Linked DNA regions of Homo sapiens: regions 1 and 2 are each linked to region 3. The links come from fine-mapping of genetic effects on gene expression. A gene starts in region 3. Each other region holds a variant in brackets. All regions are shown on one strand. Distances are between the middles of the regions.

The links.
Region 1: its variant is fine-mapped to the expression of GAS2 in ovary (GTEx, PIP 0.97).
Region 2: its variant is fine-mapped to the expression of GAS2 in subcutaneous fat (GTEx, PIP above 0.99).

The regions. Positions count from the first base shown.
Region 1 is chr11:22,810,334-22,814,589 of GRCh38, reverse strand. GAS2 (growth arrest specific 2) reads right to left here. Exons shown (of 8, transcript NM_001143830.3): 8 at 1,589-2,792. The coding sequence ends at 2,574. Among named protein-coding and RNA genes, the nearest start is that of LINC02718, 17 kb to the left of the region's middle. The variant G/A (reference allele first, on the strand shown) is at 1,947.
Region 2 is chr11:22,827,732-22,832,012 of GRCh38, reverse strand. SVIP (small VCP interacting protein) reads left to right here and starts at 2,212. Exons shown (of 4, transcript NM_148893.3): 1 at 2,212-2,318; 2 at 4,139-4,189. The coding sequence starts at 2,265. LINC02718 (long intergenic non-protein coding RNA 2718) reads right to left here and starts at 2,599. Exons shown (of 11, transcript NR_187210.1): 1 at 2,402-2,599. RefSeq lists a silencer at 2,088-2,157 and an enhancer at 2,308-2,617. The variant G/A (reference allele first, on the strand shown) is at 2,387.
Region 3 is chr11:22,664,619-22,668,781 of GRCh38, reverse strand. GAS2 (growth arrest specific 2) reads right to left here and starts at 2,171. Exons shown (of 8, transcript NM_001143830.3): 1 at 1,883-2,171. RefSeq lists a silencer at 1,932-2,091.

The sequences.
Region 1 (4,256 bases), 150 kb before region 3:
CTCACTGTGGCCTTTTTACTATTTACTTGAACTTCTGGTTTGAGATGTTTCCACTCTGTTTGCAACCAGATTTCTAGACTATTTAGACTTTTTAATCCTTTATTCATTGGCTATTGGACCCATCTCTCCATTGTCCTTCTTTGGATCTTACATCTAGCTGAGAATAAGGTGACATTAACCTACTTGGTCTATGTCCTGGCCAGTCTTCAATAAGGAGTTGAGGAGTAAGAGGCTGAATATAGTCTCAGTTTTTTTCACATCCCTGGTTGGTGCCGATTGACTAGCAGCTAGACTCCAGTGCCAGTTGTGACCATGTTTTCAGTGACACTTAAAAGACCATCTTAGATGTGGTATGGGTATCATAATCCTTCCCTCCCTGCCAAACATGTTCATGTCCTAATCCCTGGAAGCTGTGAATATGTTGTTACATGGCAAAGTCGATTCTTTAGATGTGCTCAAGTTAGTGACCTTAAAATAGATTATCCAGGTAGATCCAAGCTAATCATGTGATTGTTAAAAGCAGAAAACCTTTCCAACCTATGAGAGAAAGAGATGTGAAGAAAGAAGACGGGTCATAGAGATGCTACATTGCTGATTTTGAAGATGGAGGAAGGAAATCATGGAGCTTAGGAATGCAGGTGGCCTCTAGAAGATGGAAAAGGAAAGGAAATGGATGCTCCCCTAGACTCTTCAGGAAGGAAAACAGCCTTGGTGACACTCTGATTTTAGCCTATTGAAACCATGTTGAATGACTGCAGAAATGTGAGATAATAAACATGCTTATTCAGCTACCAAGTTTGTGGCAATTTAATGCAGCAATAGATAACTACTAATGCAAAAGATAAAGAGGTTAATATTACTTTTGTTAAGCTACACTTCTTTAATGAAGTTGACTATTATCTTTAATTTTTGTTTTAGAGACAGGCAGTGGAATTATATTATTAAGGATATAAATACGCTTATGGAACAAATTTAGGCACAGGAGAAAATGTTGATGGAAATATTGTCATTAACTATACAAAGAAACTCAGTGTCAGTATTAGGTAATTTAAAGATCTTAATCTTTATCACTCAACATTATATTTTAAAATATATTAGAATTATTCACTGCACCAAGGTGACTATCTCATACAACATCTCAGGGTTTTTTTTTTAATCGATTTATTTTTTTTAGGTTTCACTGACTTTCTCTCCCCCAAATGATTATCATCACTTCCAGCACTACAAAATTATGCCATGCATGTTATTTAAGAACTTCTCAATTAACACATTATGTATATTTTGACTAAATTTGTCATGTGACAAATATTCTTCCTTCCTGACTTTTTGGAGCAAGAAAGGTGGATTCTTTTGTTGATGTTGAAAAATGAATACATGAAAAATTAATTTTCTATCCTTTTTATACTGAGAGCAGCACTTATAATAAAACCTGAACTCTCTGCTAAGGAAAACTAACACCACCATCACTCATCTCCCAAAGTGAAGAAGTGCCAGGGAGCCCTAATTTGATTCTTCTTATAACTGTTGGAGAAAGTTGCCATTTGAAAATTAACTTGATTTCAGAATGAGGCATTGATTTAGAGACAGATAACATTTTTAAAATTTATCCTTTTAATTCTTGAATGAGTAAGGACAATATTTTGCTGTTTATTGGTATAAAACAGCCCTGTCCCAGGTATACAAGGGTATACGTAAGTCTGTAACATCATTAGCTACAGTGAATTTACTTTACTAGAAAGCATAGCAAAATAGGATTAACTAAAGATATATTTTTAATAAGAAAATGCTTTGAAATAACATGAAATCAATGAACATTTGACTGTACAATTTACTCGTCAAAGTATCAACGTATGTCAGCTCATGTATGAATTACACTAGATCATTCTAAACACAGCCATGTGCTCAGGAATGTGTGAAATAACTCATAAGCTATTCTCTAAGGGGGT[G/A]TACTGAAAACTTCTAAAAGTACCCCAGATATTTGGTCATAGATAAGAGATATACTTTAAGGCAGCCTTCCAAGTGAATGTAAACTTTTCGGAAGTGGCCTTTCCAGTAACATATTACTATTGTGAATACTCTGTACTTATGTGTAGTGCTGTTGGATATTTTTTGCAGCACATTATCACACTAATCATCATTTTGTAAAAAAAAAAAAAAAAAAGCATAAAAATCTTGCAATTATAAAAATGTCTGGAGTGCTTTTACTCATGAGTGTAAAGCAGGCACTTTCTGTTGACTTATCTGCAAATCCTAAATGTTTTCTCCTTATTTATCTTTAGTTAGAATTGTGTTTCTAATATTGTGTTCTAAATACTGTGTTCGCATATTGAGAAATAATAATTTGCCTAAAATTTGGATAATTTAAATTTGAGTTTAGATTTTCTTTTAATAGGTCATATTCTACAGAAGCATTAAAAATAAATAGTGCTACTCTTTGAACATTTTTCAATATGATGACATTTTTCTGTCTATCTTTCTCCAAAACAGTTTTCAGAACATATGAACTAAACTGACTATACTGGAGAAGTGGATACAGGCCATTATGAGGGTCCCCTTGTCATGACCAATTTGTTTCACTTAATTTCCTTCTTAGCCTTATAACTGGCAGAGACCACCAAGTAGTTATCTGGATTCATGTCCTTTAGAGTTGGAGATTTGCTTTGGATAGGGGATGTTTTGCCATCCACACGGGAGATCTGCAGCATTCGGCAGGGGTCGTGTTTCAACAAATACCCTGCAAAAGTTTCCCAGCCTCCTCCCACACGGACCATGACATGTTTGTTGTGCAGCATCTGAAATGAAAAAATATCAAAAGTGTTAAATTCCGAGAATTCTTACAGTACCTTGAATCAACCCCTGGTTCTAGTGAAATTAGTGTTTTGGTTTGTATTTCATGACCCATTGTTTTTCTACTTGGTGCAAAATGTCTGAGTTAGCATATAGTCTATGAAAGAAGTCCTGTTTTTTTTCTGTGGAAGTGATAAGAATAAACATCTCCAGAACCCAGCTTTGCTGTGCTATGGGAACCAGCACCTACGTATAATTCTTTGGTTTAATGTGTCTGGAGGCTTCTCTCTGACATCTGATCTTCTATTACAGTTCTTATTACTGCCTCTGGTTCCTGCCTACTGACTCAGCTTAGTGCTCCATTTTTCCCAGTGGGTTATTCCCCTCTGAATCAGGATTTTAAGGACCATGGAAATGTCTGCTACTGAATTACAATGCTAAGAGTCAGACAAATACTCAATACAAAATAACATTGAAAGTGCACTAAAAAAATTATTGGAGTTTTCCCCAGTCATTGTCTGAGCCCTTGAAGGCAAGGTGTTTTTGAATAGGCAAACATTTATGTTTTTCTTTATTCTTTTTCTTCCTAATTATCGTAGAATATGTCTTTTAAAACAAACAACTTACCCCTAGGCCCAGGAGCCATCTAGAGCTCCAACTTAACAAGGTTATTGATTTAAATGTGAAGAATGCATGATTCTTTGTATCTAGTAAAATATATCATGGAGGTTTGACATGGAAAACCAAATAATTTGTCATCGGCTTCTTGCAAATATCAGAAAATTTAATATTAAGAGGTAATGTTGCATGATCATCAAAGACCCTGCTGACTCCCTCTCCTGCCCAAAATGTTATGGATACATACGGGCACTGTAATGTTGGGAAGAGGATGTGATTGTGAGAGAAAGTCTGGGAAGTCACATCATAGAGCCTATAAAATCTGTTTCAATTCTTCTTACTTGGCGTCAGCTTGAGATCTAGACTTTTTTTTTTGACTCCCAGCCAGTGGGAGATGACTTGTATTCTTACCACTTGTTCTTACCACTTTCATGTAGGTTTTGATAAAGGTTTTGGACCTGCTTTCTATATGCCTGTATCTAAAATTTCTCCATGTGTATTTGGGGGTTTCACAGAACTTCATTTATGTGGTTGACATGAAGCAGTTTTCAAAATCAAATATTGTACCAACTAATAAAAATTTAATGAAAAATAGTAATTAAAGCTATTTGATTTATAAGAATTAAATGTATTTCTACTGGTTATTCTCATTTAGAGTATGAGAAATTTAGAACAGAAAGTGAAACCAGCACTACTGTCCCATAGAAATGATGTTTGTGGTTTCTTTTGAATAAATATAGAAATTGACCCTCCCAGTCTTAAAATTTGGGAAAATTACAGTTGTCTTATTTGAGTTCCCTTCTCAGGAAACCAACCATCAGGCCTCCCAGATAGTATCAAGGAGCTGAAAC
Region 2 (4,281 bases), 160 kb before region 3:
TAAGCATTAAATCGATTGTGATTTCTATCAGAAGCAATCTACTAAAGAGTTTGCAATGAAAACATTCTTCACCATTTTTATATAGCCTGTCAGATACAGTCCACTACACACATGTTAATTGTTTTTATCTAAAAGAAATCTAAAGGAAAGAATAACACTTGTATCTCTTGACAAGCAGAAAGCTCCATCTTGAAGCCAAGTGCCTAGACAGTAAACTACCATGAAGACGGGGAGACAGGTGCCACTCTGGGATGTTTTCATTTCTAAGAGAAAGCCAATAGGCCTCCAAAGATATTCTGAGGATACAAAACTGGCAAGAGGCTTATTTAGGTTCTTTCTTTCTGATGCAAAACTGGCAAGAGGCTTATTTAGCCTCCCCTGCCCTCCCCTCCCCTCCCCTCCCCTCCTCTCTTTCTTTTCTTTCGACGCAATCTCTCTCTGTTGTGCAGGCTGGAGTGCAGTGGCGCGAGCTCGGCTCACTGCAACCTCCGCCTCCCGGGTTCAAACGATTCTCCCTGCTCAGCCTCCGGAGTAGCTGGGATTACAGGCGCCCACCACCATGCCTGGCGAAGTTTTGTATTTTTAATAGAGAAAGGGTTTCCCCACGTTGGTCAGGCTGGTCTTAAACTCCTGACCTCAGGTGATCCACCCACCTTGGCCTCCAAAAGTACAGGAGTAAGCCACCATGCCTGGCCTTTTTTTTTTTTTCATACATTTCAGTGAGACAGAGATAGCGCTTACAATTTCACGTTTTCTAAACACAATGCTAAAGAGGAGGTGGGTAGTTATCTTTCTCTTTTTGCAACAGAGAACCTTCACTTTTTCTTTATATATTTTTATTTACCCTTAGAAACGGCCCATGCAATCGAATAATAGTATTAAAAAAGCATCATCCCCTATTATTTAAGGAATAAACTACTGTTTCATTCAATAACATGGAAGAATTTAGAAAATATTATGGCTTTTGCAAAACATATTGTATATTTCATTTATGTAAAACTTAAAGACTATAGTGATATTAACATTTATGCAAAACTTAAAGACTAAAGTGATATTAAACAAATTAATAGTTTCCTGGATCTAGGTATAGGATAAAGTATTGAATGGGATTGGGTACAATAGAAGGTTTTTGGGTGATGGAAAACTTACATATCTTGAATGTGGTGATCACATGTTTGTTAAAACTCAGTGAACTCTACAATCAAAATAAGTGCATAATATTATATGTAAATTATACATCTATAAAAAATTAACCAGCAAGTATATCAAAAAGCCGACAATGGTTTCTGAGACGCTGTCACTATACATCCTACCTTTTTGTAATGTTTGAAAATTTTTACATAAGCAGAAATAACTAATAGAATGCAAAAATAAAATAAAATAAAATAAAAGCATTTGTGTGGAGACGAGATCAGTAACTTTAGTATCACCTGTGGGTTTACTGGAAATGAATCTCAGGTCCCACCTTATACTTACTAAATCAGCAAGTAAATTTTAACTAGTTGCCCAGCTGATTCTCATACTTATTAAAATTTGAGGAGAATCATTAAAACATTTCTCAGTAGATGAAACTTTATTATTTCTCTCGGAAGGATAAATGACTTCTAAATACCAGAAACTAGTGGAAATGTCAACTAATGCCACATTTATGACGCTAGATTCATCGTCATAATAATGGATTTTATATTCTGCCCTCTGTTCTGGAATAGCACTGTCACTAAGAAGGGAGAAAAGGGTGCTGATGTTTACTTGGAATTTTGGCTTTAATTTCTAGGACACCAGAGTCCCATCTCATAAAAAAAGGTAGCATGAACTACCCAGAGCTGTACCACTCATTCATTTATAAATGGTAAGGCAAGGTTAGCAGGAAGAGCTTTGGAACCGTAGCGAAGCTTTTCCATCCCTTCCCTGCATTGCTACCCACAGCAGGTGTTTCCTGGAACCTAGGCTTTGGCCACAAGCCCAGCGGTCGCGGGGCGGGGGTAGGCGGAGCTGTGGGTGAGGAAGGGGCAATGCCTTAAGGGGGCGCAGCTGAGCTGTGGGACTGGTTGGTGTCGCGAGAAGAGGGGGGCGTTGCCGCAGAGAGGCGAGGCGGGGCAGAGCTGCGGGGTGGGGGCGGGGCGTTGCCGCTGGGGCGGAGCCGAGCCAGTGGAGGGCGGTGGGGGCGGGGCAAGCGCGGAGGACCAGGGACCGGCTCCGGACCGCGCAGTTAGCGCCGCCTGGCCTGGGCCGGACCCGGTCAGGGTTCTCAAGCTGTCGTCCCTATGGGGCTGTGTTTTCCTTGTCCCGGGGAGTCCGCGCCTCCCACGCCGGACCTGGTGAGTAGAGCAGGTCCCTGCGTCCGCCGGGCCGCGCCTTGAGCACCTGTCCTCGGGTTGCGGGGCGG[G/A]CCGAGCCATTGTACCTGGTGGCGCAGGTCGAGAGCCCGCTGGGGGACCCTGCTAGCGAGGACGGGTGGACGCGTCAGGAGGGTCGTTGGGTCCTGTCAGAGCGACCTAGGCCGTCGCCTCCGTGTAGATCTCCACTTTTGTAACAAAAAGTTGTCGAAAGGCGGCTGTGGCGTCTTTCTACCTTCCACTGACTTTAGCTGCGCCGGATCTTCATAGGGCGCCGGCGCACGCAGAGGGCGTTACGCGTGGGACATTCCGGGGGATGTGGTAGATGGAATTCGGCGCGAAAAGACATTGCTTTCTCCGGGAGCTCTTTAGTCGTCTAGGAGATGTGCGTTTTCAACTGTGTCTACCATCTTTTAAAAGAAGGTGCTCGGAAAGTCGCTTATACGCCTGAGCTTTATCGGATATGTTTTTTTAATGATTTCTTTTTAGTATTTATCTCATTCTTTTACGTTCTCCCTTTAAAAGAATATGTAGTACAGAGTGTCCAATTTATAATGTCGTATTTAATAAAAATACTGGACACCCAGTTACATTCGAATTTCAGATATACAAGGAATACGTTTATAATATCGTTTTGTGCCATGCAATATTAGGGATCTAGTTCTACAAAAACATTACTCATTGCTTATCTGAAATTCAAATGTAGCTAGTGGGTGTGTGGTACAATACATGTACACTTTTTGTAGCTTTCTGTTAACAGTATCTTTACATTAGTACTCCTTACAGGGAGTTAACATAAACCTGTTTCTCTTCTCTAGCTAAAAATTAGTTGAAGAAAATGAAGTATTTTTGGGAAGTACATTAACTCTTCAGCTACTATAGATACTAAAAATTTAGTACTTATAAATTTGATGTGGGAAAGTTCAGCTTCTCTTTGTTGCTGCTGTTGTTTTAAATTAAGTTGATTTTGTTGTTCTGGCTGTCGATAAAATATAACATGTCAGATTTGTTAAGCCCTCCCCCCCATCCTCATACTATACCCTCTTCCCTTGATAACCACACGGCTCACTGCTTGGATGTCACTTTACCAGTGAAGCTTTTGCTGACCACGTTAAACAAAATATATTCCCCACAATACCACCCACCCATTCTCCCATTACTTATCTGCCATGCCATCTGACAGACGTTTACTTACTTCATTATATTTGTCTGTGCGCCCGCAATTGGAATTTGTTTCATTTGGGAGGAGACATTTATCTATGTTTTTACACTGTTGTATCCCAGCACCTAGAAAAAGGGCTTTATAATAAGTAGTACATGGTCTAGAAAAATAGCATTCACTGTTTTCTGATATGGAACAATACCTCTCATGAAATTACTCCAGTCCTTCCCTCCTACACACTGAGATTAGCCCACTTCATTTATTAACCTTTCCTAAAAACACCAGGTTACTTCAGACTCCATTTTAACCGGCAGTAACAAACCATGTATTTTCCTTTTTGTATTTGTAAACATTATTTGTTTTGTTATTGCCCTGACTAGCTTGTAGGCCTTTTTATTAAAAAAGAGAGTAAATAAATGATTATATAGGTAAACCTTGTATCTGTTTTAGCATGTGCTGATTTGAAGGCATATTGATTAGGAGAATGAAATTCAAAAAGTTGAGTAGTGGCATTCTTTGTGGGACATTTAGGGCCAGTACCGAATATTTTTGTAAATTGTTATAGTGCCTATGAAATAAATGTGAATAATTTATTAATAATAATGTTTGTTATTTTAATACATATTTTTACACATTTATTTAGGAAGAGAAAAGAGCAAAGCTTGCAGAGGCTGCAGAGAGAAGACAAAAAGAGGTAAGATTAAAGATCAAGTTTTGCCTACTTAGATAATTGAGTTTGGACTTTATTCTTCATAGATGTCCATAGCTAGATTTTCTAACGCAAAT
Region 3 (4,163 bases):
GCCTTCTCAACCAAGGTAACTTAGTTTTCCAAAGTTTCCCTGAGTCTTCAATGCAGACTTCCAGTCTTGAAGTAAGATTTCTAAGTAACACACAACATACTTAGGGTTAATATAAGACCAGGTATTTCACCATACTCGAAAGTTTGAGGTTTAACTGAAGTTTCTAACCAAGATGCTAAAAAATTCCAGGGCAATCACATGACCTTTTGCACCTGGTGAAATATTTTTTTGCCATGTGAACTTATTTCCCAGTAAAGCACAGTCCATAACACCACAGCATAGTGTTTAGCAATAAAGTAATGAAATAAACCCAAACTTCAGTAGCATTCAGGCTGAAATCCAAGCTACCTTTTCCATGTAAGGGACCATTCAGGCAGCCCTGTGCAAAGTCTCCAATGTGCTTTGCAAAGGCACACTGTCCCATGCCTCATCCATCTGTCCCTTACCTTCTCTTAGGCAGTCAAAACCCAGACACCCATGTTGGAGAGAACCACCAGAGCCACCACCTTCACCGCAGTTAGAGGAAAGCATTCCTTGAGAAGGAGTTCATTGATCAATATCAAAGACAGGCTGGGCAAATCAGACCCCAGCTGCAGTTAATCAGTGTCCACACTGCTAAGAGTTTGGAGTAAAGAAGCACAGGTCTTGTTCTCTGCCTTGCCTCTGTGAATCTCAGGGGATACGTGGGGAGGAAAAGTGGACTTCCTCTGCCAGGCTGGTACATCCAAACTGTCTAAGCCTTTATTTTAATACTAGGATGTCAAATGGGTGTTCCTGTGCACAAGCAGATCTTATTTCCTTGGCATAAGATCTCTCATACACAACTGATCTAACCTTGTTGGAGAGGGTTGGAGGAGATAATTTTATAAGAATAAAGTTTTGCAAACTCTTCACTGTAAGAAGATCACGGAGGTGAGAGGATGAAGATGAAGAAGATGGAGAGGGTAAAGACTGTGATTTCAAAAAGGTTAACTGGGAAAAGAATTAACAACCCTCCCCCAACCTCAATTGTTTTTAGAATGTAGAAACAGAATCTGTTAACCCTCGCTTTTGCTCCCTCTTCATTCAAGACAATGGAAACTTCTTCGGATACCTGGGCTAAGTTAATGGTAATTTACCATACTGAGTTGACAGAATTTAATTTTGCCAGTATAAATAATGTCTCCAAAGCAAAATTGCCTCCTTTGTTCCCCAAACAATTTCAGATTCCAGTCTCAACTTTGGACTGAACAAAAAGAACGATACCACGCAAAATCTCCCCAAAGTGTGTTGATATATATCGGCTAGCGTTTGTTTATTCACATAAAACTCAATTTCATCAAACTCATCAGACACAGTGAGTATCACCCCAGATCACACATGTGGCGCTCTTTCCTCCCATCCTGGCCTCAACGACTCAAGTAAAACATTCAGGATCAGCCCTTTAAGACCATTCTGGCTCTATCCCACCCCACCATAACAGACAATGCTGAGCATGCATTACAGATACTCTTGTGCACGAATGCATATGTGTGCATTTATAATCGATGTGTTCATTAAAAATCCTCACTCTGTCCCTGGTTGGCAGAGCCACCCCAGCGGGCTTACGTGCTGCGGTTGTCCGGGGTGTTCCGCAATAGGGATAAGGAACACATGGTTGTTTCCAGAGAATCAGAAAGTCACCCCCTGCAGTGAATACCCACTCTTAGAGAAAGAGCCTGTCCAACTGTCCGCGGCTCTTCACTCTTCCCCGCCTCGTTCCTGAGGTTATTTTTTAATGACCTCTCCCCTCCCCCGCCGCCCCGGGTGCAGTAGACAGGCAGGGGCTCCCGTGAGCCCCGGCTGCGGTGCGCGCACGCTGCGGCGGCGTTGGCGCAGAACTGGGCCAGCCAGTCGTGCTCACCCCCGCGTCCCGAGCTGGGCTGCTGGCGGCTCTCAGAGGCGCTTGGGCTCCGGGCTGGGCTCCTGCAGCTTCTCGGGGCCGGCCCCCTCCAGGCACAGGTCCTGCAGCAGCCGCTCCCCGCACCCCACCAGCCTGGCGGCAGCGGCAGCAGCTACAGCCGCACTACCCCTCTTCATACTTCTCTGATGGCTCCTTTTAGTGCTGTTTGGGAAAACGATTTTTTCTCCCTGCCAGAAACAGATTTCCTACATTTCATCAGTCCTCATAGACCGAGCGGAAGTAAAATGCTTACTTTTTTTGGTGGACGCAAATGCAGTTGACACTGATTTACCCTTCAAACGGGGAGAGATTGTATTACAAGCCCTTGGCAGCAATTCCGAGGTTGGGGCCAAGCTCCAGCCCCCTCCTTGTCCCCCAGACACTAACCTAAGAGAGAAAAGGTGGGGGCTGGGGAGGGGATCATATTTAACTCTAGAGGTTTAACAGAGTCAATAGCTTTAGCACAATATTAAAATTGGGTGTTGGAAAAGTTTTTGCTTTCCTGGCCAGTGATTTTGCAGACGGAGGCACGAGCTTTCCAGTAACTTCGGCCACTCTTCATTCCAAATTGAACATTTTGATGTCTTACAATTCTCTTTAAATATCAGATTTTTAGAAGAGGCTGTACTCACGGCTGTTTTTGCTTTACCAAAGGAAATACAATTCCACCCTTCCTTCTTTCAGCCTCAGCTCAGCATTATGTTGAATGTCAGAGACAATTGTCTCCAACTGTTGTTTATTAGTACGTGTATTCTGAGATGAAACGTCTTCCATGAAGTGGACAGATGTTCAAGTGTCTGATTCACCTCTAATGCGCGGGGACCGCTTGCTGAGTGTGCTGATCCCCACAGGTTACCACCTCCCATGGAGCATAAATAAAATGTATTACACTTTTTATTTTGTTTTGTTCTCATGTTCATCAGTTTCATGTATATTGCCATCCAATGTTTACAATGGCAGTGGTACAGGTATTGTGATCCTTGCTTGGATACCATTTTTATAATGATGAGTTACCTAGCCCCACTCCCAAATAGAAACTACCTGTACATCCACAAGCTAAATGATGTGGATGATTTTAGATATAATTTAAAAAATATTCACATTTCACCTTTATTATTGCCATTATCTGGCAGAAACTGCATCAGTTATTTGCTTCTAGTGGCAATACATTTAATAAAGAAGAAGAGAAAACCGATTGAAAAGTTTGGAGTCCTTGAACTCCGAACTTTTTATTTTAGTTCAATTTGCTTTTGCAGCTATCAGGTCCACATTTCCTCCTTAGCTTTCTAAAAGAAGGGAAAAATAGTTATTCTTAATTTTAAGGAGAAACAGCATTTTTAAAAGGTCAACATAACAGCTTGGATAAACATAAATAACAACAAAACATACAGAACTCATTACTGATGAGTTTTAGTAAACGAATCTGAATGATAAAATTTCTTAAAATGTGATCAGATCTGAGTATTCCTAGAGCCCCAACAAAGAATTTTGAGTGTCTGAACACATACAATTTAGTAAAAAATCAAATGTTCTTGATAATTTTTCCTGATCAAAACATCATCAGCCAATAAATGCTAATTTAAGAATTATCCAAATATGTAATGAGTTCAAAAAATTTAGCACCTTGAACTTTCAAAATCTTACATCCTATTTCTCCCCAGATATGAATATTCTTGTCACATTGTTCATTATTGGTGTTATAAAAAGCTAAGAGTAAGGCAATGTTTTTGTTGATTCAGGAACAATGCTAAATACAGTTTGGGGAAAAAAAGGAGGCTTACAGAGGAATTGGGAAAGCATAATCATTCAAAATTACTCCCTCTCCATGCTCATTTCTTCCAGGTATTTTTTTTTTTGTCTTAAATTTTGCATTATGTCAGATCCTCTGTCTCTCAGAAAGAGCGAAAAGAAAAATACGAGAAGAAATAAATAATGTGTTTTTTCTTTCATTAACATCTAAGAGTTGTACTGAATATTTTTTTTGGTGACAAAAGAGAAGTAATACAAAAGATTTCTGAAGAGACACGGATACAGTGTTTTTATTTTAATTTTTTTAGCATATGTAAAAATTCCCATTTGATTTTTATCTTGTTTTTCAAAATCAATATTTCTATTTATATATTCTGATCACTCACTGATATATTTGTCAAAGATAATCTTTTGTCTAAGTATTTTCTTAGTTTAGTGTGGACTCAACCCAAACTGTTCACCTTAGGAAAATGTAGTCCAACTGAAGCAACTA